Linked DNA regions of Homo sapiens: all the other regions are linked to region 3. Evidence: fine-mapped expression QTL. A gene starts in region 3. Each other region holds a variant in brackets. All regions are shown on one strand. Distances are between the middles of the regions. Region 1 overlaps ADGRA3 (adhesion G protein-coupled receptor A3). Region 2 has its middle 170 kb from the start of ADGRA3. Region 3 holds the start of ADGRA3 (adhesion G protein-coupled receptor A3). Region 4 has its middle 90 kb from the start of ADGRA3.

The links.
Region 1: its variant is fine-mapped to the expression of ADGRA3 in sun-exposed skin (GTEx, PIP 0.96).
Region 2: its variant is fine-mapped to the expression of ADGRA3 in whole blood (TOPMed, PIP above 0.99). The same link has a PIP of 0.9 or more in blood mononuclear cells.
Region 4: its variant is fine-mapped to the expression of ADGRA3 in lung (TOPMed, PIP 0.94).

Annotation. Positions count from the first base shown.
Region 1 is chr4:22,429,069-22,437,176 of GRCh38, forward strand. ADGRA3 (adhesion G protein-coupled receptor A3) reads right to left here. Exons shown (of 19, transcript NM_145290.4): 9 at 7,372-7,573; 10 at 6,243-6,398. Among named protein-coding and RNA genes, the nearest start is that of MIR12115, 82 kb to the right of the region's middle. The variant C/T (reference allele first, on the strand shown) is at 3,557.
Region 2 is chr4:22,678,868-22,686,975 of GRCh38, forward strand. No RefSeq gene overlaps it. Among named protein-coding and RNA genes, the nearest start is that of ADGRA3, 170 kb to the left of the region's middle. The variant C/A (reference allele first, on the strand shown) is at 3,702.
Region 3 is chr4:22,511,407-22,519,514 of GRCh38, forward strand. It overlaps ADGRA3 (adhesion G protein-coupled receptor A3), which reads right to left and starts at 4,660. Exons shown (of 19, transcript NM_145290.4): 1 at 4,122-4,660. The coding sequence starts at 4,378. It overlaps MIR12115 (microRNA 12115), which reads left to right and starts at 3,906; the gene lies at 3,906-3,979.
Region 4 is chr4:22,602,257-22,610,364 of GRCh38, forward strand. No RefSeq gene overlaps it. Among named protein-coding and RNA genes, the nearest start is that of ADGRA3, 90 kb to the left of the region's middle. The variant A/C (reference allele first, on the strand shown) is at 3,479.

The DNA of each region.
Region 1 (8,108 bases), 82 kb before region 3:
CCATCAGGTCTCATGCTTGATCCTCATAAAGTCCACACATTCAAAACTTTAAAAAAAACTGAACAATAAATTTAGTTGTAATTGTGCTAATCTGTAAATATTAAATATATTAAAAGATAAAACATGCCAAAATACTGATTCTACCCTAAGGTGTTACTGAAATAAATGAGATTACAAACACGTACGTGCACTTCCTTTTCTAGAAGTACAGAGGACTGAGTACTCTGGAGAACTCTCCAGCAGAAAGTGAAAAAATGCTGAAAGGAAAACAGTTATCTTTGTTAATGCATCACTGAGAAGTAGGAAAATAGATCCTCCTCCAAAACCCAGTCACCAAAGAACAGCAGAAATCCAAAGAGCTCTGAGGTTGAACTCTGATGACCACGAGGTATGTTTTGACTTCCACACAGGGCCTAGGCCATGCCAACACAGGGTACCAGGAAAAGACCCCCTGTTACAAAGCTAGAAACTCAAAGGACACCACCTCCAGCATCAGGCCTAGCCAGCAATCACTCAGCTTCATGGAAGGAGAGCCAGGAAACGTGCCTGTTTTGACCTGGGCAAGAGGTAGAAGGAGGTTAAAAAAAAAAAATTATTCTCTGACAATTTGGAAACACAAGTTGACCTTCAAACAGGTCCTTTATACTACTTTCGTGTTCTTAAAAACCTCAAGCTAAAAATTAATTTTAAAATGAGTCCCCCTACACTGGCACTCGGCAGAAGCAAGCAAATATCACAGTTAAGGATACATTAGACCTTTCTCATTAATGCTCCCAACCAACCAACACTTATTGATATGGTTTGGCTGTGTCCCCACCAAAATCTCATCTTGAATTGTAACTCCCACAATTCCCAAGTGTTGTGAGAGGGACCCAGTGGGAGATAATTGAATCATGGGGGCAGGTCTTTGTCATGCTGTTTTTGTGATAGTAAGTCTCACGATATCTGATGGTATTATAAAGAGAAGCTTCCCTGCACAAGTGCTCTCTCTTTGCCTGCCACCATCCATGTAAGGCATGACTTGCTCCTCCATGACCTCTGCCATGATTGTGAGGCCTCTCCAGCCATGTGGAACTTTAAGTCCATTAAACCACTTTTTCTTCCCAGTCTCAGGTATGTCTTTATTAGTAGCATGAAAATGGACTAATACAGTAAATTGGTACCAATAGAGTGAGGCGATGCTGAAAAGATACCCAAAAATGTGGAAGCAACTTTGGAACTGGGTAACAAATAGGCGTTGGAACAGTCTGAGGGCTCAGAAGAAGACAGGAAAATGTGGGAAACTTTGGAACTTCCTAGAGGCTTGTAGGTCCAGGCTGAGGTGGTCTGGGATGGAGATGAGGAACTTGGGAACTAGAGCAAAGGTGACTCTTGTTTCATCTTAGCAAAGAGACTGGCAGCATTCTGCCCCTGCTCTAGAGATTTGTGGAAATTTGAACTTGAGAGAGATGATTTAGGGTATCTGACAGAAGAAATTTCTAAGCAGCAAAGCATTCAAGAGGTGACTTGAGTGCCGTAAAGGGCATTCCATTTTATAAGAAAAGCAGAGCACAGAAGTTTGGAAAATTTGCACCTTGACAATGTGATAGAAAAAAAAAAATCCCATTTTCTGTGGAGAAATTCCAGCGGGCTGCAGAAATTTGCATAAGTAACAAGGAGCTGAATGTTAATCCCAAAGACAATGGTGAAATGTCTCCAGGGCATGTCAGAGGTCTTCACCGCAGCCCCTCCCATCACAGGCCTGTGATGGTTTCATAGGCTGGGCCCAGGGTCCATGTGCTGTGTGCAGTCTAGGGACTTGGTGTCTAGCAGCTGTATCCCAGCTGCTCCAGCCATGACTAAAAGGGGCCAAGGTACAGCTTGGGCTGCTGCTTCACAGGGGGCAACCCCCAAGCCTTGGCAGCTTCCACGTGGTGTTGAGATTGTGGGTGCACAGAAGTCAAGAACTGAGGTTTGGAAACCTCTGCCTAGATTTCAGAGGATGTATGGAAATTCCTGAATCGTCAGGCAGAAGTTTGCTGCAGGGGTAGGGCTCTCATGGAGAACCTCAGCTAGGGGAGTGCAGAAGGGAAATGTGGGGTCAGAGCGCCCACACAGAGTCCCTACTGGGGCACCAACTAGTGGAGCTGTGAGAAAAAGGCCACCGTCCTCCAGACCCCAGAATGATAGATCCACCAACAGCTTGCACTGTGTGCCTGGAAAAGCCTTGTACTAATTCTTATATATATATTATATATAACAATATTGTACAAGGGTACAATAAAGCCACAGACACTCAATGCCAGCCTGTGAAAGCACCTGGGAGGGAGCTGTACCCTGCAAAGCCACAAGGGCAGAGCTGCCCAAGACCATGGGAACCCACCTCTTGCATCAGTGTGACCTGGATGTGAGACATGGAGTCAAAGGAGATCATTTTGGAGCTTTAAGATTTGACTGCTCCGCTGTTGTGTGAATAAGTCTCACAAAATCTGATGGTTTTATAAGGGGTTTTATAAGAGGTTTCCCTTTTCACTTGGCTCTCATTCTCTCTTTGCCTGCTGCCATGTAAGACATGACTTTGCTCCTCCTTTGCCTTCTGCCATGATTGTGAGGCCTCCCCAGATGTGCTGAACTGTGAGTCAATTAAACCTCTTTCCTTTATAAATTACCCACTCTCGGGTATGTCATTTTTAGCAGAGTGAAAACTAACACAATGGGTAAATAATTGTCTTGTTTTTATTAATCTTTCTTAAATATGTGTATGGCTCATACTTATTTCAATGTTTAATATTAGAAATGTTTGGGGTCTTTATTTGGAAGTTTGGTGACATTTTTGTGACCAGAAATGATCTCTAGGGATTTTATAAGTTTTACTTACATCAATTAGCATATGGTCAATTTGGTTTCATTACATATCATTTCAGTTAAAGTTGCAGTTTCCAAGAACCTATAGATGACCTTAAGTGAGGGCTTGCTGTATTGAAAACTGTTGAAGCCAAGCAGAGGTACAGCATAGGTATTAATGATAATATTCTCCTATCCTTTTGAATTTTCCAAGAAAAAGTTCTTAAAAAGTTAAAACCCCCCACCTAAAAAAAAATTAAAGCAACAATAGAAAATGGAGCTGTTACAGGGGTTCTCAAAGCCAGTATCAAAGTCATGCTGCCTGAAACATCACCTGAAACTGACTAGAAATTCAAATTCTCTGAACCCATTTCAGACCTGCTGAAATGGCAACTGGGAATGGCAGGGAGGGGGAACTCAGGCAGCAATCACTGCGTATAACAAATCCAGCAAGTGATTCTGATGTGTGGTGAAGTTCTACGAACAAAGTCCTAGAAAAGCTTAATAATACAGAAAAGTCTGGCAAGTAAGATCAAGAAAAAAAAGAATACAAAATAATCATAATTGTCAATACAGAAGCGATGACACTTTAAAATCAATGAAAAAGCCATATATTTGTAAAAATCTATATATAAACTAGTGTAAGGCGCATATCGCACTCACATATTTTAAAATAAGAGACAATAAGGGTGCCAGAAAGCATCATCAGATCTAATCTTTATATTTAACTTTC[C/T]CATCTTATAAAATATGCATATTGTTTTCATAAGAAAAATCACTTTAGTAAATACATAACAGACACTTCTGTTGCCTGACAAGACAACCTTTAACTGTTTTTAAAAGGATCCACTAAATATATCACTTAGATCTGGCAGTTTGAGAGCTTTTAATGCCTATCCTGAGACAACAAAGTGCCAGCTTGTGTTGGCCAGGCTCAATCACAGATTAAAAAGCAATTCCCCCACAATACTTTTGTTATGAAATCACTCATAAAAGAATAACTTTCAGACATAATACAAAAATCAATTTAATTAATTATTTCTCTATCTAAGCTAGGTGCATTTTAGGATAACTTGGCATAATTTTATGCTGTGGTAATTAACTTAAAATGAAGCCCTCAAGCCTCCTAGTTTTTTTCACTACACTAATAAATGGTGAAAGCTATGGCCTGTGGTTCAAATTGCCAAAGAACTGTATGTCAGTCACTGCATCACACGCAATATTATCACATTTATATCTCAATTATTCAATCCTGAATATTTTCCTGTTTCTCGTGCTGACAGTTAGTAAGTTGCCATCACTTGCTTCCGAAGATAACATAACTTTTCCGTCCTATGTTAACCAGTAAAAGTGACAGCAATCTTCTTCACACTAAATTTTTACAGAACTAACTGATGCACTCATGATTATTTAAAAGGACTTCCTTCTTAGCTTCTGAGGTCATAAAAATGTTATATTTCATAACCTAATAAAATGATATCCAAGCTTTGCAACTATTTTGCAAAACTGTTCGCCTGTATTTGTGCACATACACTTTTCAAATTATACAGAGAAAATAGCATCCCCATTTGAAAAATGAAGAATAAGCCCATGGTTAATTAATAACTAATGAAACCATGTCTACTTCCAGTTCAGTACAATGCTTCCACCTAAGAACCCGTCAACGCAGCCGACCACTCTTCCACAGGCTGGCAAACAGTTCAACATACACCTCTGGACACCACGTTGCTCAAGTTGGGAGGTGAGCAAAACAGGTTCACATCATAAACATGTATTCTTCGATGGCGAATGTTCTTCCATGTCCACATTCCAAATGTCATTACAATTATTCTAGTAACTAGAAACATCCCACTCCCGGAAATGACTGCTAATCCTGTGGGCACCAACCCTGTCATCTTAAGCAACAATGGAGCACAATATAATCACAGAGCCAGAACCCAAACGGCCTCTCCCAGTGCAAGGAAAATTCACTGCAGGAAAGTGGGCTGTGCCCTGGAGACACAATCAAGTATCAGGAGCAGTTATTAGAAAAAATCATGGCCCCTGAAGTTCAGAAAACAAATGAAATGTTATCCCGCTGACAAGTGAGGTGGCCTATTTGCCTAAGTCCCGTTTATATACATGTATCTATTTTCCTTCCTTTAATAACTACATCCTATCAAGTAAAGTGCCTAATGCACTAGGGCCACAGTTTCAAAAACTTATTACCACATTGCAAGTACTAATTCTTATATATATATTATATATAACAATATATCTATATTAGATACATAAATATGTAATATACATTAGATATATCTAAATATATATTATATAATATATTAGAATATATATGTGATATATAAGTGTGTGTATATATAATTGATATATAAAAATATATTAGAATGATTCAGGAAAATAAGGCTTATTATTTACATTTTAGCAATATTAATGGATCTGAGAAGTTCTACATAAAGAAATACGCAGGTTTTGTTTAGCCCAGTGTTTTCCTCACAGTTGTGTACAGAGCACTTTTAGAGTTCCAAGTCAGGGCCACATTGTATGGGAAGGTGAATGTGATGCTACAGAAAACTCTTATGGATGAGTCAGGGATCTTGGGTTCTCTTTCCAGGCGTGCCCTAACCTAAGCGTGGGCTTCAGTTTACAACTTGCTTGAGGTTCCCTCTACCTCTATAATTAATTTCTTTATAAGTGATTATATCACAAAAGAAATTGTACATATAAAGTTCTCACGAAGCTTTAAACGTAAAGTTTAAGAACACAATAATTCTGCCCCTTGAAAATTATTCAAAACATTAATTTGCTGCTCATTCATTCTGTAAACTGTGCTTGTCAATTTTTTTCCCCTAAAAGATATCATGTGGACAAGCATATCATGGTTTCAATGTGGTCCCGTTAAGTTAAAATACGCCACTTTTAGAATTCACTGCATTTTTTAAAACTTGTATAGTCCAATCATTTTGAATTTCAAAAAAGTGCCTAAACAGCCTCTCATTTCTCTAGGACATTACAAGGACAATTAAAAGGAATTTACTACAAGATCTGGGTGACTAAAACTCCCGTTACAAAAGATGAGCACGAGGATATGTGGAGAAGAGAAATCCAGCAGGCTGAGCTAAGCAGCTCTGCCTAAGCCACAACGTGGAGGCAGAACACTGCTTTTACTGCTTTCTCACCAGCGACCTCTGCTGTATCTCTGGACCTTAACGTCCAAGAACTGAGAGTTCACCTCTCCCGGTCCCAGCAGCAAACAGGTCATAAGAGAAGAGGCAGAAGTATCTCAATAAAATTCTGGAAATTTAAAAGCATGCTTTTAGCTCAAATATGATAAACATAAACAGGCCTTAAAATACATAGATTGAACTCTGTCACACTACCATTTGTTGACACTGTATGCTACAAATCTGAATTTAGAGAAGTACCTCTTTTGATTTTTCCTCCTTGGTAAATCTTCCAAATTTTTCAATCATTTCTGCCACAAATATAACATCCATTTTGTCAGAAAAGTTGGCTGCTTCCACAGTGTAAGCCAGTAACTGTCGAGCTGTTGCCACGGCATTGGTAAGATTGAGGGGCATCTACATTTCAAAGGCAAAAATGATCAACAAAACAGTCATTAGCAAAATGATCAACACAATCCTGACATTTTAACTTTGCATTTCAAAACAGCAACGAATTAAAAACTTTATTATTTACTCATCATGGCCTTCTTAAAATGCTTTACAAACCCAAGAAAACTGGAATTTTAATGGAAACTCACTGGAGGGAAATTTTTTCAAGCTTGGAGTGAAATACAATAATACATAAAAATACATGAGGTTAACATGTTGCACCATCTATCTCTTCTCTGCCTATCCAAATTCTACACATACCTCAACTCCAATTGCTTAATAAAGCCTTTCCTGAGTATTCCTGCTGGGAATGATCAATACCTCCCTTGGAGCTCCTACTGCACAAGAGTACGAACTACTTATTTGGCACTTATCTTTATTGCCATGCACTGCCAGTAATGTTTTACATGTGTTTATCTACTGACTCTAACACGGACTTAGCACCTAACATTGCAAAAGGATTTTTACCAGGTGCTAAGGGGCAAAAGAAAATACATTACACAAAAGCCATCTTCCACTTGCTTATAGTCTGGTAAGTTTTAAAAAGATGCATAGAAGCAAAGATAACAAAAAGCACATGAGTAGTTCAAGTATTCTAAGCAATCGCTTTCAACAAAGTGATTATAAAATGAATCCAAGAGGTGGCTTTCAATGTGAACTCGAAGGATGGTTAGGATTCTGTCTGGTGGATACAGATTAAAAAAAAGATATTCAAACAAAGGCACAAAGGGAGATGGTGACTGCAAAGGAAGGATTCTATAGAGGGCCTTGACTAGTGATTAAGATGGACCTGATCCTGAAGACAGTTAAGTCAACTAAAGTAAAAACACAAAATCCTTATGTTTTGCCTAGTATTAAAAAAAAAAAAAAAACTTATGTATTTGGTTTGAATACCATGTTTTCTCCACAACCCAAGTAAACATGAAGACTTTCTAGTTACCTGATTAAACATATAAAGAACTCTAGTGACATCATTTGCATACTGACAGCGAGAATAATCATCATCTGCCCAAAAGCCACCTCTATCACATCTGCGCCAAGCTTTTCTCTCATCCTGTGGGTTTCCGGGATATATCCCACTGCCATGGGTGTTCCGCGTACACTGCAGATATGCAGTAATGCCTGCCAATGTTCTGGGCCATCTAGAGATGAAGACAAAATAGTACAAGAAAATCTAAATGACACGGGTACATCAAGAATAACAACAGCAGAGAAAAAAATCAAAGATGAAGATGTGTCATGTCAATACAACCCTGACACGGGTCATCAAAACTGGGCTGGGAGAAACCTTTGTTATTTGAACTCTATGTCTCCAAAACTGAGAATGAAATTCAACATGTTTAATACAAGTTACCATGGATGCTCATCACAGGAACCACTAAATGACAGTATCAGTCACACCAAAACAGAATTCATTACAAAAACCACATAAATAGATCAAGCAACACTAAACTAAATCTTATTAATGCAGTGGGAATTTAATTGCATAATATCTTAAGGAGTGTCAAAGACAAATAATTCATTGATCTATAAACATTTAATTGCTCTATTTTTAAAAATGTAAAGCACTCAAAACTATGAGAATATAGAAAATCTACCATAAATAGTAAATATCATATTAGGATTATTTGATAAAAGATGTTGAATGTAACAAAATTACCAAATATCATATATTTC
Region 2 (8,108 bases), 170 kb after region 3:
AACAAACAAAACAAAACAAAAAACAAAGTAAGAATGGAGTGAATAGACTTTGGCCAGGAGTAAAAAAAAATAGGAATGGAGTGAATAGACTTTGGCCAGGAGTAAAAAAAATAGGAATGGAGTGAATAGACTTTGGCCAGGAGTAAAAAAAATAGGAATGGAGTGAATAGACTTTGGCCAGGAATGTAATTTTTCTGCTCCTTTGGTTGTTGTTGGAAACACGCCTATTGGAAAGTGGAACCACCAAGTGAATGTGCCTATAAAAAGGAATATAGAATTCTCTGATGTCCCAGCATGCTAAAACATCAAAGTAAATTTGGGCAAAGCTCTTCTGGTATATGAACTCTAAGGTAGAAATATGCTCTGCCTGCAAGAATAATAATAGACTCTGTCTTCGAATGGGGAATTAAAATGCTGGAAAGAAAGATAGGACTTGGAATGAAAAAAGTTGGACTTGAGTGCTGGCTTTGATGACTTATTACAGAGCTCCTTCAGGCAGTTCTCTGGTTCTCTTCTTCCTTTATAAATGTTGTGCCTTACTAAATGACCCCTAATATCATTTCCATCTCAAAAGACTCCATGACTCTAACTGAGGATTCCTCTCCAAATTCCATGAACAGAGCCTTTTTAGTGCTATATTTTATGATTCTGAATGAAGGTGTTCCTTTCCTCTGACCACTGTAGAAAAGGGGGAGAGAGTCCTGGCAAGACACTGTGGGTAGTTAACTGCTATGTCATATGACACAGAGAACAGCTGCACTACAAACATTTCCCCTTCCAAATAAATAAATAAATAAATAAAATGATATGCTGAAGTGCACAAAAAAGGAGTAGTAGAAGGGCAAGAGCTTCTGGAATGTTAGCTTTATTTAGCCCAAAATGATTGGCAGCAAGTTGTGACTTTATTACTCAATGCATCTATGTTGCCATTCCAAACAGTTGTTGCAAGTGCTCGAGAGAGAACAGTAAGCCTGTGTAGCTGTTTTTCTTCTGTCTTCTAGTTGGGTGAAGAGAAATGCACATAAAACCTGCTTTGAAAAATACTAATGATTAGAATCAGGGTCTGTTGATGGTTCTGTAGAATTTATCCACTCTTCATGTGGTCTTATTTCAAGAACAATATTTTCCCCTTACTGACATATAATGCCTACTTATTGTACAACATTTGTAAAAGCACAAATGTAAATGAAAATAAATATTGTCATAGCCTCAACACCAAGACATAACCACATTTTGGAAATATATCTTGTAAAAAGCCAAAGGGGAAAGGGTGGTAGGAAATGAATACATATGAAAATTGAGACCTGGAGAAGTAAACTTTGCTGCATCTACGGATTCTTTATACTACAGCGCACTTCCTCAGGGGCTCAGCTAAGCATTTCAGAAGAGTGCAAGTGTTGTTGACATTTAAAAGCTACAGCATGGGCTTGGGATAAGGCAATTCTGTTCTCTATTTCTTAGAGAAGAAAAGAATCCCAGTGCACACCAGGAAAATAATTTTGGAAACTCAGTTAATTGTGAAGGTGAGGCTGAGCCAGCTTGTGGTTAAAGCTACAAAGGAAATATTGTTCACTTCCCATAAATGATTTCCCGTATGTAAAGTGGGGCCGATCCTAGCAGGTGACTTCAGAGACATGGAAACATTTAACCACAGATGAATAAATCTTGCAAACACATTTTTTAAAAATGCAAAGAGTAACCTATAAAATAAAATCTGTGGCTGTCACATTTGGAGACTGAAAGTTCAAAAAGCAGGGCCTGTTTATACCAACCACAAAGGCTAGGGATCTGTGGTTTTATTGGATTTCTCATCCCAAGAAAATATTTACACTTGGAGGAGAAGATGCGTTTTTAGCTATAAAAACCATATGTAGCATATTTGTGGACGATATTGCAAATAAAAATATCTTTTTTTCCTCAGCCTGACAAAACAGACAGTTCTGTTTAAAGCATCAAAAAATTAGGTAAAATAATCACAGTTCTTTTAAATGTGTGAGGCTTTTTATTTTTGGTGGAGATGTATATGGGTGGTTGCCATGAAGGAGAAAGATCTTTGGTGAGTGTCCTGCTTTCTGCTGCCACAAAATTCCAGTCACTAGAGTTTTTGGAAGTCTAGATCTGTGTGCATGAGAAGAGAAAAGAATACCATGAGAGAGAGCTAGAAAGAAAAAATAGTATGGACATAGCTCAATTGACCAAAGGCGAAATGAAATAAATAAACATTGTGGGGGGAAAAAAAGACAATTTGGAGAAGTTTAATAATGCATTTATTTATTTAAAAAATATATATATTTTTTCTTTTTTTTGAGATGGAGTCTCACACTGTCACCCAGGCTGGAGTGCACTGGTGTGATTTTGGCTCATTGCAACCTCTGCCTCCTGGGTTCAGATTTGAGACTCTGTCTCAAAAAAATAAAATAAAAACCATAAATAAATAAATAAATAAAAGATAAAACAATGATTCTCCTGTCTCAGTCTTCCACGTAGTTGGGATTACAGTTGCATGTCACCATGCTCAGCTAATTTTTGTATTTTTAGTAGAGTCGGGTTTTCGCCATGTTGGCCAGGCTGGTCTTGGTCTCCTGACCTCAAGGGATCCACCAGCCTCAGCCTCCCAAAGTGCTGGGATTACAGGCATGAGCCACCGTGCTTGGCCAACAATGTTTGTCATTTAATGATTGACAATCAAATTATTTTAAAAAAATTGATTTAAGGGTCAGTTGGTTTGAGGGGGAAAAAAACCCTTCAAACTAAATATTAGCTTTATGCATTAGCATTTATGCCATAAAACAGTTTTCATTTTTAATTGAAACTTGGACGTTTCTGAGCAGCAGAGGCAGAAATAAAAAAAAGTTGGCTGGGCACGGTGGCTCATGCCTGTAATCTCAGCACTTTGGGAGGCTGAGGCGGGTGGATCACAAGGTCAGGAGTTCGAGACCAGCCTGACTAACATGGTGAAACCCCGTCTCTACTAAAAATACAAAAATTGGCCGGACTTGGTGACACGCACCTGTAATCCCAGCTACTCAGGAGGCTGAGGCAGGAGAATCGCTTGAACCCAGGAGGCAGAGGTTGCAGTGATCCAAGATCGTGCACTGCACTCCAGCCTGGGTGCCAGAATGAGACTCTGTCTCAAAAAAAAAATAAATAAATAAAAAATAAAACAAAAGCTGTCTTCAAGCTGGGGAGAGTGATCCAGAAATAAGTGTGACAACGCAGACTGGTCTTTTGTCTTTCCAAAAATAATATCTGAATGCTTTAGAATAGAAGGGGTCAGACCTCCTGAATATCCCCTATCTCCTCCCTCATTTTTATAGCTCAGATTGCCTCACTGAAGGATATTAGGAAAACTCCATGACAAAACCATATAAAGAATTTCTCAAACTGTATTGTAGGGCTGAAATTTAATTGCAGCAAGGGTAGTGCAGGGAGATGAAAGTTTACCTCTACTCTCTTCAGGTTCCAGCTGGGCCTGAGAATTAAATTGACATAAGATAGATACACAGGAGGAAAACATGCAGAGTTTTACATGTCCATGGGAGCCCCTGTTAGGAAACAAAGACCCAGAGATGTGGCAAAACCTGAGTGCTGATATACTAGGTTGAACAAAGAATGGCAATTGTAAAAGTAGCTAAAATGTACAGGGAGGCTGAAGGAAGGTACAAGTTATAGCAAGATCTGTTTGTACAGATTTTTCTCAG[C/A]CTTGACTGCCCGTCTCTTGTGACAAAAATGTTTCTTCTCTCCTGGTGGAAGGTAGGCATCTTTCTACATGGGCGTTCTCTCCTGTCTCCAGTGACAAGAATATTTCCTTTTTCTTGGTACAGAGAGGGCCGATTGTCCTTTTGTTTCTGCTATTTTTTAAGTGCCTTTAGATCAAAATAATCCTTATGCCAAAGTGGCATACTATGGGGTGGCACATTCTGTCACCCATCAGTGCAAATATTGTTTGGAATATGAAAATGAGTGATGACAACAAATGCTTTTTGTTTGCTTGTTTGTTTTAGGTTATGATGGAATTTCAGGACAATACTATTTCAAAATATGACCCCTTGACATTTGAGAAAGCAGGAGACACAGGAAAGTCACTCTCACCTTCCCCTCAGCCTTCTCCCCTGAAGCAGGTCATAAAATCTGGGAAGGCCGCTCTCTGACCTTTTCCTGAAGTAGGTCATAAGGCCCTCATGTGAGGGGCACCCCTCTAATATCAAGAGAAAAAAAATCCTTGTCTCAGAAGACTCAGGAACACAGCGAAAAATATGAACAAACAGAACTTGCTAATCTTCCCCTAGTTTATTACCATCCTATCATACCCTGTTGTCAGCTGGCTTATTTTAACTGTTGTATTCCTAGGAAAAGAATCCCTGTCTAACCCAGGTTATACTCTCTTCAGAATCATCTGAAAGCCGAGCTACTACTTTGAGTAAATAGCAAGGCCCTACCCATGACTATTTTTGACAAGGTACCAACTGTGGGCCTGGCATTATTCTCAGGGATTCACATGTATCATCTAATTTAATCCCAGCAACCATCCTGTGAATTAGGAGTGATGACCGTTGTTTTACAGACATAAACACTTCGGTTTAGGGTGGTCAAGGAATGCACCCAAGCTTAAATCGTATCTAGAAAACAACCAAACTGTGCCTCATGTCTGGCTTGTCAGTTGATACCCAAGCCTATGCCCCTACCCCTCATTATTCTAGAAAAGAAATGTCACCCGTAATTTGAAAATACTAACTCAATATTCAAATCACTTCCCCAATGAAAAAATGATCAATCCTTCTTTCATGGTTTGAAACTTCTGCAGTTTCTACCCACTTTTGCACAATCTTCAGGTCCTTCGAAAAGTTGTTCTTGGTGTTACCTTTTGAGTTTGTAATTGAAGTTGGCAATAGGGTAAATCTGCCATCATCAAGCTACTCTGCCATTATAAGAAACTAGAATTTTGTTTTTATCCCAGTTGTAATGTCTTTGTGTTTTCTCTTTTTGTTGGTGTGTGCAATGTCTGTCTTTGCAGTGAACCACTAATCACATGAGAGGTGTGCCATAAAACAAAGCTTTCAAGGTAATCTGCATTTGTCACAAGCTCCCTCCCACTGACTTTGACTGCCACTGCATATTTTATGACCTCACCTTGATTTCAGGAATAATACAAATATATGGCTTATGTTGTGTGAATTTTGATTATTGTATGTGAGCATTACAATGCAAAAAATCATTAGTCAGAATGCAAACACATACAACACACATGAGATGAGAATATAATAATCTTTTATAATCACTAAAATAAACAGATTATATGGTAGCTCCAAATGTTATGGAAATGAAATGTTAAGTTCAGGGCTGTTATTGTGCCATGTACCATTGGGCAATTCAGAGGACCCCCAAAAAAGGGAATGTGAGTACAGTACAATGTTGCCTTACAGAAGATGGAGAGGAGAGACTTTCTGTTGGGTGCAGAGCCAGGGAGATGCCCCTCACCATCAGAACACCACACTGGGTGGATGGAACTTTACATCAGCTACGCTAAGATCAGGAACCTTCCATTTTTCTGATGAAGTCCTCTGAGGAGAATCCTTGTCTGCTCCCTGAGCCTAAATCCCGATTTCACTTCAGTCAGTGCTCTCAGAGGTTTCCTTTCCCCATTAATGACCTCCTGGACACAACAGAGCAGGGCAACATCCCATAGTTTTCGGTAGATTCTTCCCTCTGCCTCTCCATTTCGTTTCTCTACTCTGGATCTATAAGGTATTGGGAGGAGGCATTACCTCTAGGAAAACTAGAGGTAACTGTCTACTTACTCTTAGATTCTTCCCCAAGTAACAAGGAATAAAAATGGGATGCTATTAAAACAAAGCTGGGGAACTTCAATTAGTAGACTATAAGAGGACTTAAATGTGGACCATATGTTCAGGGACTAACTGGGTTGGCTTGGCTCACCATTGTCTTTCTAGAGTTTAGTATGGTTCCTGGCTCATAGTAAATGCTCCATGTATTTTTGGTGAATGAATTGATGAGAAAAGACCCAATGAGCCTTTAATTCTTAGCTTGCCTGATTAAGGCAATCCCTACTCTCAGAGAAGTTATGAATTAATGAGGAAGACAGGCAACTAAGCAAGTTTTAAAACAAAATGTTATATATGAGTGTTATGCAAAAAGGCATAAAAGAGACAATGGAAACACAGTGCTGGGGGACCTGGCTTGTCCTGGGGAGTCTGTTCTTAAAAAGTAACCTTGAACTGGTCAATAGGAGATAAGGATTAGCCAAGATAAAGGAGAGAAGAGTTCCAGACCAGGAAACATCATTTGTGAAGAATCAGCCCCAAGAAAGAGCATGGATCATAGTAGATTTGAAAAGCTGAAAAAAGTTAAATACGCTTATGAGAGGAACACTGGTGTGCGTGTAAATAGAAGGAGACAGGAAACTGATAATGCGGACCTTGCTAATATCAGGAAGTTTGAACTTCAGGGACAGAGGCAATCACTGAACAATTTGTGTTTTGGAAAGGACTCAGGCTGCAGTAGAGTATGTTGGATGTGAACAAAACTGGAAGTTGGGAGCCTATTTAAACCTTTCTAGCCCTGAAGGGATTTCTTTTGACTTTGATTAGAGAAGAGGCCACAGAAATGAAGGTAAATTGACATACACAAGACATGTCAAGGAATCAGAGTCCACAGTGTTTGTAAGGGGGCTGCAGGTGGCAGGAAGCAGGAGGAGGATAAATGAAGGGTTTAGATGGCATCCAGGCTCTGCAGCAGTCTTTAATTATGGACCCAAGAGAGGAAAGTCTGGGCAGGTTCTCCCAGTTCTAAAGCTGTGCTGGCTTTCCAGTCTAGTTGATCTAAAATAATTTTACTATCACCAAAATTGTTCTGTTTCACTCTGTTTTTATACTTTATTTGGCTCGATTTCATTCTTTTATGCTTCCTTTCCAGATCATGGGCTTCCAATGCATTGCTTGATTTTCTGTGGGAGGAAAGTGCTTTTGAAGTTCCAAATCCAATCCCTGAAGCAAGATTAATAATCAAAGATCCTCTCCAGTGTGCAAATCCTCATGGGATTTAGGTGGATTGCTACAGCCTAGTCCCGAGGCATGTGGCACACCTGTACGTTGCCACAAATAGTTCAGAAATAACACCAGTTCATGTCTACAACAAGGCCTTTGAACTTGAGTATTCTCTTTCTGGTATTCAATGCTGGAGCTGCAGTGAGAGCGTGCAGTTCCCTAAATTTTGCCCCCGAGGAACCTTACTTGTCTCACCATAATCTCAGTTCATTTGAACACTTCTCCAGATACTCTGTAGGAATACAACGGAGTTAGCTTGTTTCAAGGGAGAGTTTTTTTATTGGGAAGATGACCTAACTGGCTAAGTCCAAGTTTGTGGAAACAACATATCTGAGGAATCCGAATCAGATCAATGAAATAGAGTTTCTAGCAGCTGCACTGTGAATAACGTCCTGAAAGATGCTGCTGCTGGAACTCGATTCCACAGCTATGGGTGTTTGTTGGAAGGCACCCAAAAGGGATTCCAAGGGCCCTGCCTCTACTGACTGCCGTTTATTCTTAAAGCACTAGGCTCAACAGTTGAGCTTTGTGTGGTATTGAGTGGGTTTTATGATTACTTGTTTGCCATTGTTAGTGTCAGCCTGTCAACACCTTGAAGGGCAGAGCATTTTTGTTTGTTTTGAAAATTACTCAATAGCAAATCCTTAATTATACAGCAGTATGGCTTTTTGAAAGGTTGAGTGATGTACTGCTGTTGTTTTAGATTTCTTTCATGCTAAATCTTATGAGGTGCATAGCCTTCAATAACTAAATGCAAATAATGCAATCGAATCCCACTTGAGCCTGCCATTAATTATCTCACATTTATCTTCATTTCCAGGCTGGTGATATGGGCCAGCATTCAAGACAACTAGAAAAAATATCCAGTAAAGGTTTTGAAGTTCCTTTATGTGCAGGGATTTATGATACACAGACACGTGTGAACCATACACACATACATGCATGTATACACACATACATGCATGTATGCACACATCTGCTTTCACATCTACACACATCTACATCTGCATAATACCACATGCATGGCTAGATGTAACACATGCA
Region 3 (8,108 bases):
CCTAGGATTTCTGCCAGACCTTTCTTTAAGCATAGCTACAGAAACAAGTGGTGTTCATCAATACTGTTGAAGGATCTGACTTTTAGGCTATGATGAAGACCAGTTCATCCATTAAATAGAAATGGCTTTATTTTTCATGATTTAAAAAAAAATTATATCCCATCTTTGCCATTCTCCCAGTTCCCATCAGTTAATTTTCCTCTCTGTGGCCACATCACGACTCAGCTGAAAACACCTGGCCACACCTAAGTGATAAAGGCTCAAACCAGGGAGCCTGGCCATCCTCGACTCAGCCCCTACAGACTCCTCTGACCACCCTGGGCACCAGACACTTACCTTTGACATTCCGGTAACACCAACTGCACAGCAGCATAACCAGATACTGTCCTCTCCAAACCCGTGGGCACCTGGGGTCCCCCACTTCCAACCTATCATTTCCTCCCCTTGTTCCCTCACCGTTTTCTTCACAGTTATATTTTTCTTTCTTTCTTTTTTTTTTTTTTTTTTTGAGACAGAGTCTCACTCTGTCACCCAGGCTGAAGTGCAGTGGCACGATCTTCACTCACTGCAACCTCCGCCTCCCGGGTTCAAGCGATTCTCCTGCCTGCCTCAGTCTCCCTAGTAGCTGGGATTACAGGTGCAAGCCACCACATCCAGCTAATATCTGTATTTTTAGTAGAGATGGGGTTTCATCATGTTGGTCAGGCTGGTCTCGAACTCCCGGTCTCAAGTGATCTGCCCATCTCAACCTCCCAAAGTACTGCGATTACAGGTGTGAGCCACTGCGCCCGCCCCACAGTGATCTTTTTCCTCTTTCCAGAATTGGCTCAGGATCCTCAATCCCACTAGGATTGAGGGAGAAGGAGGCCCTGGTTGCCCTCCTCTGGGTTTCTTTTGCTACATGTGCACCCTGGTAATAGAGCATTGACCATACTGTTCTGAGACTTAGTCATGAATTTTTCTCCCCAAATATCTGTAATTTCCTGGAGAAGAAAGAGCATGTTTTTATTTGTATTCTGTCATGAGCTGGACAGTGTTTCATAGAAAGAAATGTCCAAGTCCTGACCTTTTAACGTGATCTTACTTGTAAACAGGGTCTTTGCAGATGTATTTAATTAAAGGATCTTGGGATGAGATCATCCTGGACCTAGGGTGGACCCTAAATTCAGTAACTGGTATCCTTATAAGAGAAAGGAGAGGACTTGAGACACACAGACACACAGGGAGAAGGCCAATGGAAGGCAGATGCGGAGACTTAAGTGATGCTGCCCCAAGCCAAGGAAAACCAGAAGATGAGAGACGCAAGCATGAATTCTTCCTAAAGTCCTCAGAGAGAGCATGGCCCTGCTAATAGATTGATTTGGGGTTTGTGGCCTCCAGAACTATGAGCGAATAAATTTGTTGTTTCAAGCCACCAAGCCTGTAGTAATCTGCAGCAGCCCTAGGCACTAACACACAGTCCAAACTTCAACACGCTACCTACTACCTAGAGGCCACTCAACAAAAACTGTGCTCAACTAAGATGAAGGCAAGGTGAGGAATGAGAAAGCATCTGAACTGCAGGACAGGAATCTGGGACGTGGACTCTGATGCTACTATGAGAATTCTGGTGAGCAAGTCCCTTATCTACAGTAACTCTAACTCTTTCCCCAGTAAAATGAGGAAACTGGCCCATAAGACCCCTCTACAGGGGGCCTCATATACCTTGAACCCTCTTCAGCCAGAACAACTTTCCTCTTTTTTTTTTTTTTTTTTTGAGATGGAGTTTCATTCTTGTTACCCAGGCTGGAGCGCAATGGTGCCTTCTTGTCTCACTGCAAACTCCTTCTCCTTGGGTTCAAGCAATTCTCCTGCCTCAGCCTCCCGAGTAGCGACTAGCTGGGATTACAGGTGCACGCCACCACGCCCAGCTAATTTTCTGTATTTTTAGTAGAGATGGGGCTTTAAGCATGTTGGCCAGGCTGGTCTCGAACTCCTGACCTCAGGTGATCCACCCACTTCCACCTCTCAAAGTACTAGGATTACAGGCATGAGCCACCACAACCAGCAGAACAGCTTTAATTGATCCTTAATTGTATCTTCTTCCCATTCACTAAACAAATTTTTTTTTTCTTTTTTTTTTTGAATGGGAGTCTCACTCTGTTACATAGGCTGGAGTGCAGTGGTGCGATTTCGGCTCACTGCAATCTCCACCTCTCGGGTTCAAGTGATTCTCCTGCCTCAGCCTTCCAAGTAGCTGGAATGACAGGCATACGCCACTACGCCTGGCTAATTTTTGTATTTTTAGTAGAGACAGGGTTTCGTCAAGTTGGCCAGGCTGGTCTTGAACTCCTGACCTCAAGGGATCCACCCGCTTTGACCTCACAAAGCCCTGGGATTACAGGTGTGAGCCCACCATGCCCAACCTTAACTTTATTTTCATCTAAAAAGCTTTCAGGCAAAAAAAAAAAAAAAAAAAAAAAAAAAAACTGGATTGAAATGACATTTCATAGTTACTTATATTTTAACCAGTTTCTAAAAATTGTAGAAAAATAGTTTAATTGGTAATATGCTGAAAATCAATTTACCACCATATCCCCTATTTTTTTCTGCAACGCAAAATCAACAATTTACTAGTAGTTGACCTAATCCAGCTGAAATTGTGGACACTTTTAGGTCAGAAAAACTGGACCTAAACATGAGTCAACGTAAATGTCACTCATTGACCCAAAACCTAAATGTTTATAACATAACTGCATGATGACTAATTTTTGCAGAGTAACAAAGAAAATCTCCTCCAACATTGGGATTTTCTCCATTTGGACTGTAATTAAAGTCCCATACCGAAAATTTCCACTTCAAAGAATCTGACTAAGAAATAAATAAATATAACTGCTGCCACCACCACATGGTAACGTGTTAGTAACGGAGTCAAATAAAACAAAAACTCTTTCATCCATCTTCATGCCTCCATAAATAGACACATAGACACAATTTTCATGGTTAAACGTTTCCTAATTCAAAAAATGGAAATGAAGGTAAACAAAAGTGTTAGTAATGAAATGTATACCTGGCCTACCTGTGTATACTCCTGCTGAATTTGGGTTACATTTAAAACCATACTTTAAGTGTTTTCATAGATCATGCTGCGGTCCTTGCATTCATGTTTGTATAGTGGCTGCCTTGATTCTTTTTTTAGGAAACCAACCAAAACAACATAGAGGAACCCCGAGCCAAGGGACTCACATTTCAGTTGAACAAAATACCCATGAGAAACACTTAGACTCAAAACTTTCCAAACCAATTCATCCTTCTGAAAACAAACTCGACAGTCACTGGGGCCAACTGTTCAGCTAGAATTGGCAAAACTACGTTTGCAAAACTGAACCGTGAATCCCAGCACAAGTGAGTTACCAAAATTTTTCCTTCCAGGTGGAAACTCAATCCGAAAATCAAAAATCCCTCGAGTTGGAAGGCTCAATAAACCCACGGTTTTCAGTTCCAATGTTCCTGGCTTTTAAATATAAGCCCTCACAGACACGAAAACGGGACTGCAAGGTACATAAACAGATTGATCTGAAATGTTTCCAGCCCTTAATAACAACTCTATCTTAAAAGGTGCTCTTTAACTGTAATAAAACTAAGATAGCAAAAGGCAAAGGAAGCGTCTTGGGGTTTGGGCTCGCACACAGTCCTTGTGTTTTGCAAACTCTACCACGTAAGTGTAACTTAATTTGCAAAGAAGCAGAAGGACTGGCGCTTGCAATCAAGCATTGTGTTTTCTGGAAACCCAAGCCCAGGATGAATGAGCTTTAACTCTGTTGACTGCGTGTTTACTTGCATCCTCACGTGGCACCGCGCAGCCCAAAAGCGCTGCGCCGGGGACAGCGCGGGGAGCGCCTGAGAACCCGAAAACTTTACTTTGCAAACTAGTGGAGCTGGGAGGCAGCTCGGACGCAGATTCCCTTGCCTTTCCCTGAACTGCACCCATGCCAAGCACACGAGGTCTTTCCTAGCACCGCCCCCTGCCTACAGCTCCACACAAAGGCGCGTGGGTGCCGGCTGGACCCTGCTCCAAAGTTGAGCGGAGAGATAAGAAAGAGCCGAGCGGGAGAGGACCCAGCGTCGCGGGAGATACTCACAGGGTGACCGTGCGGTTGGGCAGAGTATCTGGGGGCAGGACCTGCGCGAGTTCCAGGCTGCTGCACACCACCTTGCCCTCGGCGGCGCCCGCCGCCCTGCCAGCCCCTCGGGGCCGCCCATCGTGCTTGCAGCCGGCGGGCAGCGCCGCGGCGCCGCCGCCGCCGCCGCCTCCCAGCAGCGCGAGCAGCGCTAACAGCGAGAGCGGCAGCAACAGCGGCGGCTGCGCGCGGCCCCGCCGGCGTCCGGGTGGCTCCATGCTGCGGGCCGGGGCCTGCGGGGCGAGCGGCGGCGCACTGGCCTAGCGGGCCGCCCCGGAGCCCGGGCGGGCAGGAGCGCGGCGCGGGCCCAGCGGCGACCGGAGCCTTATGGCGGCCGGAGGACGGGCCTTCCCCGGCGCGGACATGCTCCTTTGTCCGCTGCGGCTGCGCTGGGCCTCTAGGGAGCCGGGGGTCACGGCCGCATGGGTCCCAGCGCCGCTCTACCGCCCGGCGCGAGCACCGCCTCCTCCTCCTCCTCTGCCGCCGCCGCCGCCGCCACTGCCTCCTCCCCTGGCCAGGACCCGCGCGCGGCGGCTCCTCCCCGCCCGCCGCCGGCGGCCGCCCCCGCCCCTTCCCCTCCTCTTTCCCGGCTCTCCTGCTCTCCCCGTGTCTGCAGCTGCCCGGGACCTCGGGGAGGAGGCGCGCGCTCCCGGGACCTGCCGAGCCCGACTCCGACCCGGTGCGCGCCCGGGCCTCGGCCTCCGGGCAGGAGTTGTGGGGAGCCCGCGGGAAGGCAGTAACTCGTAGAGAGAACGGAGGAAAGTTCGAGTCCGAACGGAGGAAAGTTCGAGTCCAAACTCCACCCGCGGTGGCCACTCTCCTGCTCGTTTCCCTTCGCCGCCACCGCGCTCGCACCGCGGGCACAGGACAAAGCAGTCTTGTGCGCTCCTGGAGACTGCCCATGTGGCCCAAGGAGCCTGGCCCGGAGGATGGAGTAGGGACGAGAGTAGGGAATTTCCCTGACCAACCCTATGGGAAAAGTACCCAAAACCAAGTGTTTCGGAAGGAATCGCCTTCTCACCTCATTATGGTAGTCTTATTTGTCCCAAATACACTGGAGCCAGTAAACAGGTTCCTCTTCAATACAGTGAACAATCTGAAGCTGTTTCTGGCCTTCAGCAACAACAGCGATGGTCTCTAAAGGATGCATCTGGACCTCACTAGAAAGGCAGCCTTTTGAAAGAAATTCGACAGGCAAAGATACTTGAGATGTTCACCAGTTCGAGCAATAATGAGCAAACCCTCCAAGAAACCCCAACAGAATTGATTACTCTGACTTCCAGCCTCGCCCTAACATTTGCAAGCCCAGGGCTTACCTACCCTATGTTTAAAATTTTACAAGGACTATATCATGCTAATAAAATATATTCTGTGCTCCTGCCTTGAGAAATTACCTTCATAACAACCTGGAAGGTTTGTAAGCAGGATTCTCAGACACCTTGGAGTTTCTCCCTGAAACATGGCAGGTGGGAAAGAGTCAGATCCAAACCTTTGGCCTGTACACCTTCACCGTCTTTGCTTCCTGTGCCCAGCTATCTTCAAGGACAAGAGGGGATTTTTTGTACCTGTGTGTGAACACCGCAGCCCACAAAACCAAGTTCTGTTCACACTTTCTAACAGCCACCCTCTGTCTGCGTCTGGATCTCAGGTGTGCCTATACCAGTTGTTGGGTCCTTCATTGGGAGGACAGTTCTCAGAAGAAGCTAGCTCAGGGCCAAGAAGTGGCTTTGGTAATACCAGTCAGGGAATTCCAGGGTCCTGGGTCTTGGGGACATAGTGGGTACCCAGGCTTTGGGTGCTGGCCTGGAGATTTTTCACCCCATAAGAAGAGTCAGGTTGGTGTCCTCTAAAATGGAGGGCCTAGAACACGGTTTTTCTTGCTTGGGTCTAAGGACACTACTGCCTCTGGCCCCTACAAAATTTATCTTAGGGACCAATTTGCAGGAATCTGTTTATCTGGCTAGAGCTTTCTCAATGGGAAGTAAATAAATGGTCTCCATTTATCATTTATCAGTGTTGTATTAAATTTGAATAGCAGTTCATTTGACCAACCCAACCATGTCCAGTGCTGTCTAATAATACATTCTGTGATTGTATAGCTGTTCTAGTTCTTTGCTGTCTAATATGGTGGCCAACTGTGGCTACATAGTGTGTGGAATGTAGATAGTGTGCAATAAGAATTAAATTTTTCATTTCATTTTAATTAATTTACATTTGAATTTAAATGCCCAGTGGCTACCCTGTTGGTGTTGAACAACATAAGCCCAGACACTATGATGGGAAGAAAAAGTGGGAGATTATCTGCACCATTAAGTGACTTCGGATCTATAAATAACCTTAGCAGGCACACTGGTGCCTCTGTGTTAAGGTGGGTGAAATGGATCACATTTCTCTTGAATTTATCTGAAGAATTATTATTCCCTAACAAAATAATGATCTGTTTTTTGATTAAGATAAAACCTTACTACAGATTGAGCATTGAGCATCCCTAATCCAAAAATCCAAAACCTGAAATGCTCCAAAATCCAAAACTTTTTGAGTTCCGACAAGTAATACCTCAAGTGCAAAATTCCACACCTGGTCACATGTGATGGGTCACCATCAAAATGCAGACACACTATGCAGTTTACTAGCATCCCCAAGGGAAAAAAGCCCCTCCCAGCCCTTTTCTGCTGCTATATATCTTTTCAGGGCATGCCTAAATTCCCCCATGCAAGCGTGCCCCCCAAAGGTAATCAAATGGCATGCATGCAGGCTGGATTTGCCAACGACAAGTTCCCCACAATGCCCACACTGGGCCTTCATCTACGTGCATTACTCACTGTGGGTTTGCTTTTTTGTTGTTTTTTGGTTTTTGTTTTCCTTTTCTTTGCTCTGTGGTGTAAAGCTATTGTTAGTATAAAGAAATATCAGGCCGGGTGCAGTGGCTCACACCTGTACTTCCAGCACTTTGGGAGGCCAAGGCGGGCGGATCACGAGGTCAGGAGTTTGAGACCAGCCTGGCCAACATAGTGAAACCCCGTCTCTACTAAAAATACAAAAAAATCAGCCAGGTGTGGTGGCGGGCACCTGTAATCCCAGCTACTTGGGAGGCTGAGGCAGGAAAATCGCTTGAACCAGGGAGGTGGAGGTTGCAGTGAGCCGAGATCGTGCCACTGCACTCCAGCCTGTGTGACAGCGCAAGACTCCATCTCCAAAAAAAAAAAAAAAAACAAAAGAAAAAAAAAAAGAAATATCAAAGAAGCCTGAAGTTAATCTGTGGTTATCAGTGATAAAAAGAGGAAGCATTTATTATGTTTATGCAACAGAGTCCAGCTGTTAGAGAAACTGGACAGTGGTATGGGTATGAGATTTGTTACAGAAAAGTATGGTGACAGAATGACCGCCATGTATAATCTGAAGAAACAGAAGGATAAATTGAAGATCTATGCTAAAAGCGATAAACACAAGTAAATGAAAAATAGAAAAACACTGTATGATGCAAAATATGAAGATCTCAATTGTGCACTGAAAAAGTGGATCCATCGGCATCACAGTGACCACATGCCACTTAATGGTATGCTGATCATGAAACAAGCAAAGATCTATCACAATGAATTTGAAATTGAAAGGAACTGTGACTATTCAACAGGCTGGTTGCAGATATTTAAGCAAAGACACAGCACTAAATGTTTAAGGATTTGTGGTGATAAAGCATCTGCAGATCAGAAAGCTGTGGAAAAAGTCATTAATGAGTTTGCCCATATCATCGCTGATGAAAACTGGATACCAGAGCACGTCTATAATGCTGACGAAACATCACTATTTTGGCATCATTGCCCCAGAAAGACACTGACGGTGGCAGATGAGACAGCCTCTATAGGAATTAAAAATGCCAAGGACAGAATAGCTGTGCTGGGATGTGCTAATGTTGCAGGCACGCATAAGTGTAAACTTGCTGTGATAGGC
Region 4 (8,108 bases), 91 kb after region 3:
AAAACTCAGGTTGGTCCCAGCCCTGAGGCTACCTGACCTGACAAAACTCTTCATCACACTCTATGTGTCAGAAAGAAAAAAAATGGCAGTTGGAGTTTTAACCCGGAATGTGGGGGCCCTGGCCAAGGCCAGTGGCCTATCTCTCAAAACAACTAGACAGGGTTTCCATAGGCTGGCCCCCATGTCCAAGGGCCCTGGCAGCAACGGCCCTGTTAGCACATGAAGCAAACAAGCTAACTCTTAGGCAAAACCTAAACAGAAAGTCTCCCCATGCTGTGGTGATTTTAATAAATACCAAAGGACATCATTAGCTAATAAATGCTAGATTAACTAGATACCAAAGCTTGCTCTGTGAAAATCCCCGCATAACCCTTAAAGTCTGCAAAACCCTAACCCTGCCACCTTACTCCTGGCATCAGAGAGCCCAGTTAAACATAACTGTGTAAAAGTATTGGACTCAGTTTATTCTAGTAGGCCCAACCTCCGAGACCACCCTTAAACATCAGTAGACTGGGAGCTGTACGTGGATGGGAGCAGCTTCGTCAAGCCCTGCAAAGTGACTCTGAAGAAGATGACAAGCCCTGCTCCAGTCACACCCGGAAGCTGACTGCTCCACACACGGCCGAAACATGAGGAAACTCATCGCGGGACTCATTTTCCTTAAAATTTGGACTTGTACAATAAGGACTTCAACTGACCTTCCTCAGACTGAGAACTGTTTCCAGTATATACATGAAGTCACTGAGGTAGGACAAAAGATTGCTACGGTCCTATTATTTTATGGTTATTGTAAGTGTACCAGGACTCTGAAAGAAACTTGTCTGTAAAATGCTATTCTATCCAAGGTATGTAGCCCAGGAAATAACCAACTTGATGCGTGTTATGACCCATTTTAAGCATCCCATGATCACAGTTTTTAAAATAAAATTAAGGACTGGTCCTTTTCTAGGTGACACAAGTAAGGTAATGGCTAAAACAGAAGAAAGAGGGGTCCCCAAAAATGTAACCTTAAAATTTGATGGTTGTGCTGCTATTGATAGTAAGCAGCATGGGATAGGATGCGGTTCTCTAGATTGGAAAAAAAAGTTACACAGCAGAAAATAAGTACATCTGTCAAAAATCATATTTATGTGAGATGTGTCAATATTGGTCTTGTGTCATTTGGGCTACTTAAAAAAAAATAAAATAAAATCCTGTTTGACTCCAAAAAGGAAAAGTCAGCCCCTCCTGCATGAGTGGGAGTTGCAGCCTTTTAAAACTGATAATCACAAACCCCTCAGACCCAAAGTAAAATTAAAAACACATGTAACATTAGGCATTGATGGAAAAGGACTAGATCCTAGTGTAAGCATCCTAATAGAAGGAGAGGTTCAAAAACGCTCTCCAGAACCAGTATATCAGACTTTCTATGATAAACTAAATGTGCCAGTACCTGAGATTCCAAGAAAAACTAAAAATTTGTTTTTGCAATTAGCCGAACACGTAGCCCAGTCTCTACAAGTCACCTCATGTTATGTTTGTAGAGGGACCGTAACAGGAGATCAATGGCCATAGGAAGCCCGAGAATAGGTTCCTACAGACCCAGTTCCTGATGAATTCCCAGCCCAAAAGATCACTCTGATCATCTCTAGATTCTAAAAGTCTCAATTATTAGACAGTATTACATAGCTAAAAAAGAAAAAGGATTCATTCATCCTGTAGGGCAGCTTAGTTGTCTTGGGCAAAAGCTGCATAACAGTACCACAAAAACAGTTACATTGTGGAGTTCCAATTACACAGAAATAAATCCATTCAGGAAATTTCCAAAGTTGCAGACTGTTTAGGCCCATCCAGAATTCCACCGGGACTGGATGGCCCCCACCGGGTTATACTGGATATGTGGACACAAAGCTTATGCTAAGCTGCCTGATCAGTGGACAGGTAGCTGTGTAACTGGCACCATTAAGCCATCTTTCTTCTTACTGTCCATAAAGACAGGTGAACTTCGGGGCTTCCCAGTCTATGCTTCCCGGAAAAAAAAAAAAAAAAAGAGAAAACGAAGCATAGCCATAGGTAATTTAAAAAATGATAAATGGCCTCCTAAAAAAAAAATCATACAATACTATGGACCCGCCACTTGGATACAAGATGGCTCATGGGGATATCGGACCCCCATCTACATGCTCAAGCAAATCATACGGTTACAAGCTGTTTTAGAAATTATTACTAATAAAACTGGTTAAGCCTTGACTGTTCTTGCCCGGCAAGAGACTCAGATGAAAAATGCTATCTATCAAAATAGACTAGCTCTTGACTACTTGCTAGCAGCTGAAGGAAAAGTTTGTGAACAATTTAACCTTACTAATTACTGTCTACACATAGATAATCAAAGGCAAGTAGTTAAAAATATAGTTAAAAATATAACAAAACTGGCACATGTAACCATGCAAGTGTGACACGGACTCAATCCAGGAGCCATGTTTAAAAATTGGTTCCCAGCAATAAGAGGATTTAAAACTCTTATAATAAAAGTAATAATAGTAATAAGAACCTGCTTACTGCTCCCTTGTTTACTATCTGTACTTCTTCAAATGATAAAAAGCTTCATCATTACCTTAGTTCACCAAAATGCATCAACACAAGTGTACTATATAAATCACTATCAATCTATTACACAAAGAGACATAAGCAGCAAAAATAAGAGTGAGAACTCCCACTAATAAAAAGTGAGAGTCTCAAAAGGGGGGAATGAGGGAAGAGAGAGACCCTCTCATATTGTTTTATATTGTTTTATACTCAGTACCTGTTTTAAGAAAAAACAACAAGGAAGCAAAACCAAAGACAGGCAGCCCGGCACCAGGCCCGAAACCGGGCCTGGGTCTGCCTGGCCTAAACCCGGTAGTTAAAAATCAACTCATAACTTAGAAACCGATGTTATTCATAGATTCCAGACATCGTATAGAAGAACATTGTGGAACTCCCTGCTCTGTTCTGTTTCTCTCTGACCACCGGTGCATGCAGCCCCTGTCACGTACCACCTGGTTGCTCAAATCAATCATGACCCTTTCATGTGAAATCTTTAGTGTTGTGAGCCCTTAAGAGGGACAGAAATTGTGCATTCGGGGAGCTCGGATTTTAAGGCAATGGCTTGCCGATGCTCCCAGCTGAATAAAGCCCTTCCTTCTACTACTCGGTGTCTGAGAGGTTTTGTCTGCGGCTCGTCCTGCTACACTATCAGCTGTGGTTGAAGGTTTCTGCAGGGAGAGTTGTGGCAATTCCAGTCTGCTCTACAGGCGGGCAGGGTGGACTCACTCAGGTAGAGTCACAGGTGTGGGTAGTTGGTTGGAAGTCTGGCTAGAGTGCAAGACAATGTTAAGAGATGAATAAATATGGGAAGGCACAGCTAGCACTCTTACAGACAGTCCATTAACATTCCTGAGTCTGTTTTCTCATTTTTAAAGTGGAAATTCCAAGAACTATTTTGGAAATGTTGAAATGT[A/C]AGTGAAGGCACTGGCTGGGATCCAGGACCCCAAACACTCTGTCTTACCATAGTAAGAGATCCCAGTTGTGTCTTCCTATACTCACTCTTCCTTTGGAAGTGTCCATGGTGTATGTTTGTGTCTATGCACACAAACAAGGCTGAGAAAAGGAACACACTACAACTAGATGGAACCCTAATCCTGTTCAGCTAAGACTACACAGATTTGTGGGAATTCTGTTGCTCAGAGAAGGCAATCCTAACTTTGGGCAGGAGGCCTCTTTGGACCCTTTAACCCGGAGCCATGCTAAAATATCAGCCCTCTGATTCGCAAACTCTGATACTGGGAAAAGATAAGTCTTTTTGAGTATTAACTAGATACATGCAGTTATAAAGTACCTAGTACAGTACCTGACATATAGTGTCTGCCATATAGTAGGTTTCTCCAAAATGTGAATGCATCCTGTCTCTATGCCTTTCTTCTCTGATTTTCCTTAAGTACTGGGCACATCATTTATAATGCTGCTTTCCCAACTTCAGATTAAGATGACCATGGGAACAGGCCCTGTGCACATAAGCAGTGACGGAGGTGGATGCTAATTCAATTAATAGTATCCATAGGCCAGTGGGCAACCAATGAGGGGACCTGGAGCAAGAGACACTGTCCAAGTGGGTAGAGAGTAACTAGCTAAAACAATGTGTCCATCTCCCTTTTGGGCTGTAGACTGGAAAATATGGAGAGTGGTCAGTTATTAAGGGGTAGGAGGAGAGAGAGAGCGAGATGAAGAGAGAAGAGGAGGCACAAAAGTAGCAGAATAGGAGTCTGAGAGGGCATCTGAGTGAAGATAAGGTGAAGCTGGGGGCTGTGATGTAAGTGACAGTCCTTTTCCAGGAAGCAGCATATAGCTGCCCCCAACCCTGCCCAACATGCCAATGCCTGCTAGTCCAAAGCCACTTGAGTCCTGGGAGCAGCATTGCCATGTGCAAGAGCAGTAGGGGCACTGGCAGGAATGCATTCTATTCGTCTCACTGGATTAAACATTTACTGGTCCCAGATCAGATTGGCTTGTGTCAGCACCTTTGAGTGACACACAGGCCCCTCTGGCTTATGTCACTTGCATATTTGACAACTCAGCTATACTCAAGGCAGCTCCCCAAAGCCTGGTCTAACCCTCACCGGAGAGCAGGCAGCTCACACTCTGGCACTACCATGTGTTACCTGGGCCCTGAGTTAGGAAGAGAGATTGCCTGTGGTATCAGATCATGCCATGGGGATTCTGAGTCCATACCGAATGGGGTTGCTTTTCAGGATTTCATTCTGAGAAAGAATGCAAATGAAGAATATAGAATTACACTAGCAGCAAAGTAGAAGGACAGAAGGGAAGACAGGAGTCAAGTGGGTTGTCATATGATGAGGTCAGAGTGAATAGAGCCCTAACGAAACTAAGCGAGCATCAAATGGATATTTGCAAGGTCTATGTATGCATGCATTCAGATACATTTTATCAACTTTATTTTTAGAATATTATTTCATTAACTCTAAGTTTTGAAGGTTTTTGGGGTTTCCAAAATGGGTTACTTCTCCTAAAAACAGTTCTACTTGATTCAAGATGCCAATTAAATGGGTACTGGAGGCAGCCATGGCCACGGACTCTCCTTTTGTTCTCTTTCTTTGTGAGCGCAGGTATAAGCTGCACTGATCCTGACCTTTTGGCCTGAGGATGGAAGTCTTCAGTATCCGTACAACTTTACACCCAAGAGCTGGTGTAGAATGAGTTCCTCTGGCCATGGCAGGATCACAGAGGGGTGCCTGCCACCTGCAGCCCAGCCTCAGTAAGTGCAACTGTGCAGTTGGCAGAGGGGAGGGAGCTAGGGGCACACCAACGGTTTCTGTTACTTCCTGTAGGCATAGCCCAAGTCTCAGGAAGTGGAATATACACAGGGTAGGGTGGGGTGGGGGAGGGGAGGGGAGCTGTTTCTTCCCCCACCCATTACCTACTAGTCCAAAGCCACTTGAGCCATGGGAACAGCAATGCTAACCACAATAGCTGCAGGGACCTGGAAGGGGACTGGTGATGACATCCAACAGCAATGCTCTTTTACATTGAGATGTTGATGGACAGGAGTCCACCTAGACTTCTCTAGAGACACACATGTCAAAAAGCAGGCAAGTATAACTCTCTAAACATTCCTTGGATGCTGTATTATCACCCCCTTCCCTCACTACAATTCTGTAATCTCCACCTTGGGAGGAACAAACACGTCTTATTGCACCTTGCCCAGAAATAATATCACAGCTTATTAATTCCATCTACTCCCCACACAAGGGATAACGACTGTCCACAGAAGGGGTAAGGAAGTCTCAAGTGCCACACAGGGAATTTTCCTAGGGCCTTCCATCATTTTAGGCCACTAGTAACTCACCTATAGCCAGTACTGTAGCAAGTTGAGAGTGTATGGATTTGGGTACCATTCATCTGTAAAAACCAAAGAAAAGACTTGCACTTCTGGATTAATTCACAGACCTGTGGGAAGACCCTCTTGTCTCACCTGTGACTCATGACCATATTTTGAGATTCCCAAGTCCCTGGAGCCTGCTTCCTCCTGAGCAAAGAGGGTTGTCTTTATTTCAATTGGCAAGGAAAGTCCATTTGTTTGTCTCCAGTCCCGCCAGGGGCTCCACTCTCCCTCAGTTACGGGAGACCTCCTGAAGCAAGGCTGGAGGGAGAGGCTGTGTGGTAAGAGTGAGTTTTGAATGAGTATGGACTGAGGGCTTTACATGCACCAGGTGCTGCACAAAATAATTGAATTTAATCCTCACTCCGGCTCTGACAGGTGGTTGAGATCATATCTTTATTAAACTTAGCATTTTACAATGGGCAATTAATTGCTGGAGATGGGATTAAAATCCAGTCTTGTCCAACTCCAAAATAGTATGTCTCTCACTACCTAACCCATGCTTGCCTCTCAGTGACATCACATCTGTAACTATAGGAGTGTTTCCTTGCTATCAGATCCAAGTGAATACAATCCTTTGTACCGAGTTACCTTGAGGTAGCCAAATGTGCCAGAGTCAACTCTAGTTAGAATGAATGAGGACATCACCCCACCTTTGGTTGCTTCAGTTCTCCAATTTAAAATAATATATGTTGGGTACCAAGAACTGATGCTCTACTGAACAATCCCAAATACTTGGAATGACCAAAGTACTAGGCTCTTGCTCCTGGAAAACAATGATGTAAGCCAGCACTGCCTGGACTTTGGGTCTCTCCTCAGGTAGCATAAACCACACAGAGATTGTGATCATCTGCTCAGGTTTTATGCCAGCCTTGCAACAAATCTCCTTATCTTCATGGGATCTTTATCTTCACTTCTGCCTCCACACTACTGTTAGAAACACATATACCAAGACTTGGTGGTTATGTAGTAATAATATCTTCACTCCATCGATGTTGGTTTTTTTCAAGAAAATTTATTTTAAATCTTGGCATTTCCACAGCTGCAAATCTGGGAGAACGAGCCAGCCCTTGCGGAGCTGTGTGTGTTAGCTGGATCAGGGGTGAAAGGGGGCAAGCTCAGGGTATCTTTCAACCGCTGATAAACTCCCAGGGACCAAGGAACCTGGTCCCCACGGCTTTTTATCACTGAGATGCTAGCTCTATAATGCCATCTCCATGGTGATTTCTATGTTGAAGAAGAACATTTGTTTCCTGCCACCAGTGAGAGACCACCTGAGTGTTCGGTTGCAGTATCTTCAACTCTCCAGGTGCATCAGTAGCATTGTCTTCTCTGGGCTTCTCTCATAGAACTCATTTTTAGCAAAGTCAAGTTTCCATATTCTAGGTAGTAACTTATCAGATGGATGATCAAAAAGATGGAAGCAAAACATTTTCATGTACTGCATTTCAGTTATTTTCTCTGGGGTTTTATCACCCTGCGGGTGGTTGTCTCCAAAATAACAGGTGTCATTCTGCTCCATTAATCAGGTTCCCCTACCTTTATCCGGGCACTTTTCTCTTCAGCGTCTTCTTCAAGGTATTTCCAGTTGCCCACCCTGGACTGTTTCAGAATGAGGAGGACACCTGGAGGAATCTACAGGTGCATAGACCAATTTGCAAAAGAACCTGTGAGCCAACGTAGGTTGTGAGATGCATATCCCACATCCAGTTCAGCCCAGTAACTTGGGAAATGGGGGAGAGGTAGCTCTGAAGACCAGACAGTACATCTTTACCCCCATCCATGCTTGCAACTGTAAGTTGATCTTAAATCAGTACTTTTAACCAAGTCAACCTCAATCACTGGAATAGGATACCCAGCTGAAAAACTTGGGGTCACTGAATCAATCTCTTATCTGTAAGAGATAATGACGCCTACCCAATGGGGTTCTGAAAAATATGTAATGCCTGACATGTAGTGTATACTCACTGAATGTGGCTTTTAACCACAACCTTTATATTTTTGCCAAGAGTATCACCTTTCTGCAGCAACCCTGAGAACCTCACGCTAACCTTGTCTTAGATTGCTCATTCCTTTCCTATATTTAGACACCAAACTCCATTCATTTTCCCCTTGAAATGTTCATTCCCATGATCAAGATTTTGCTTAAACACATTTTATTTTCATGTCCAGATTATTATCTCAGCTGGAAGAA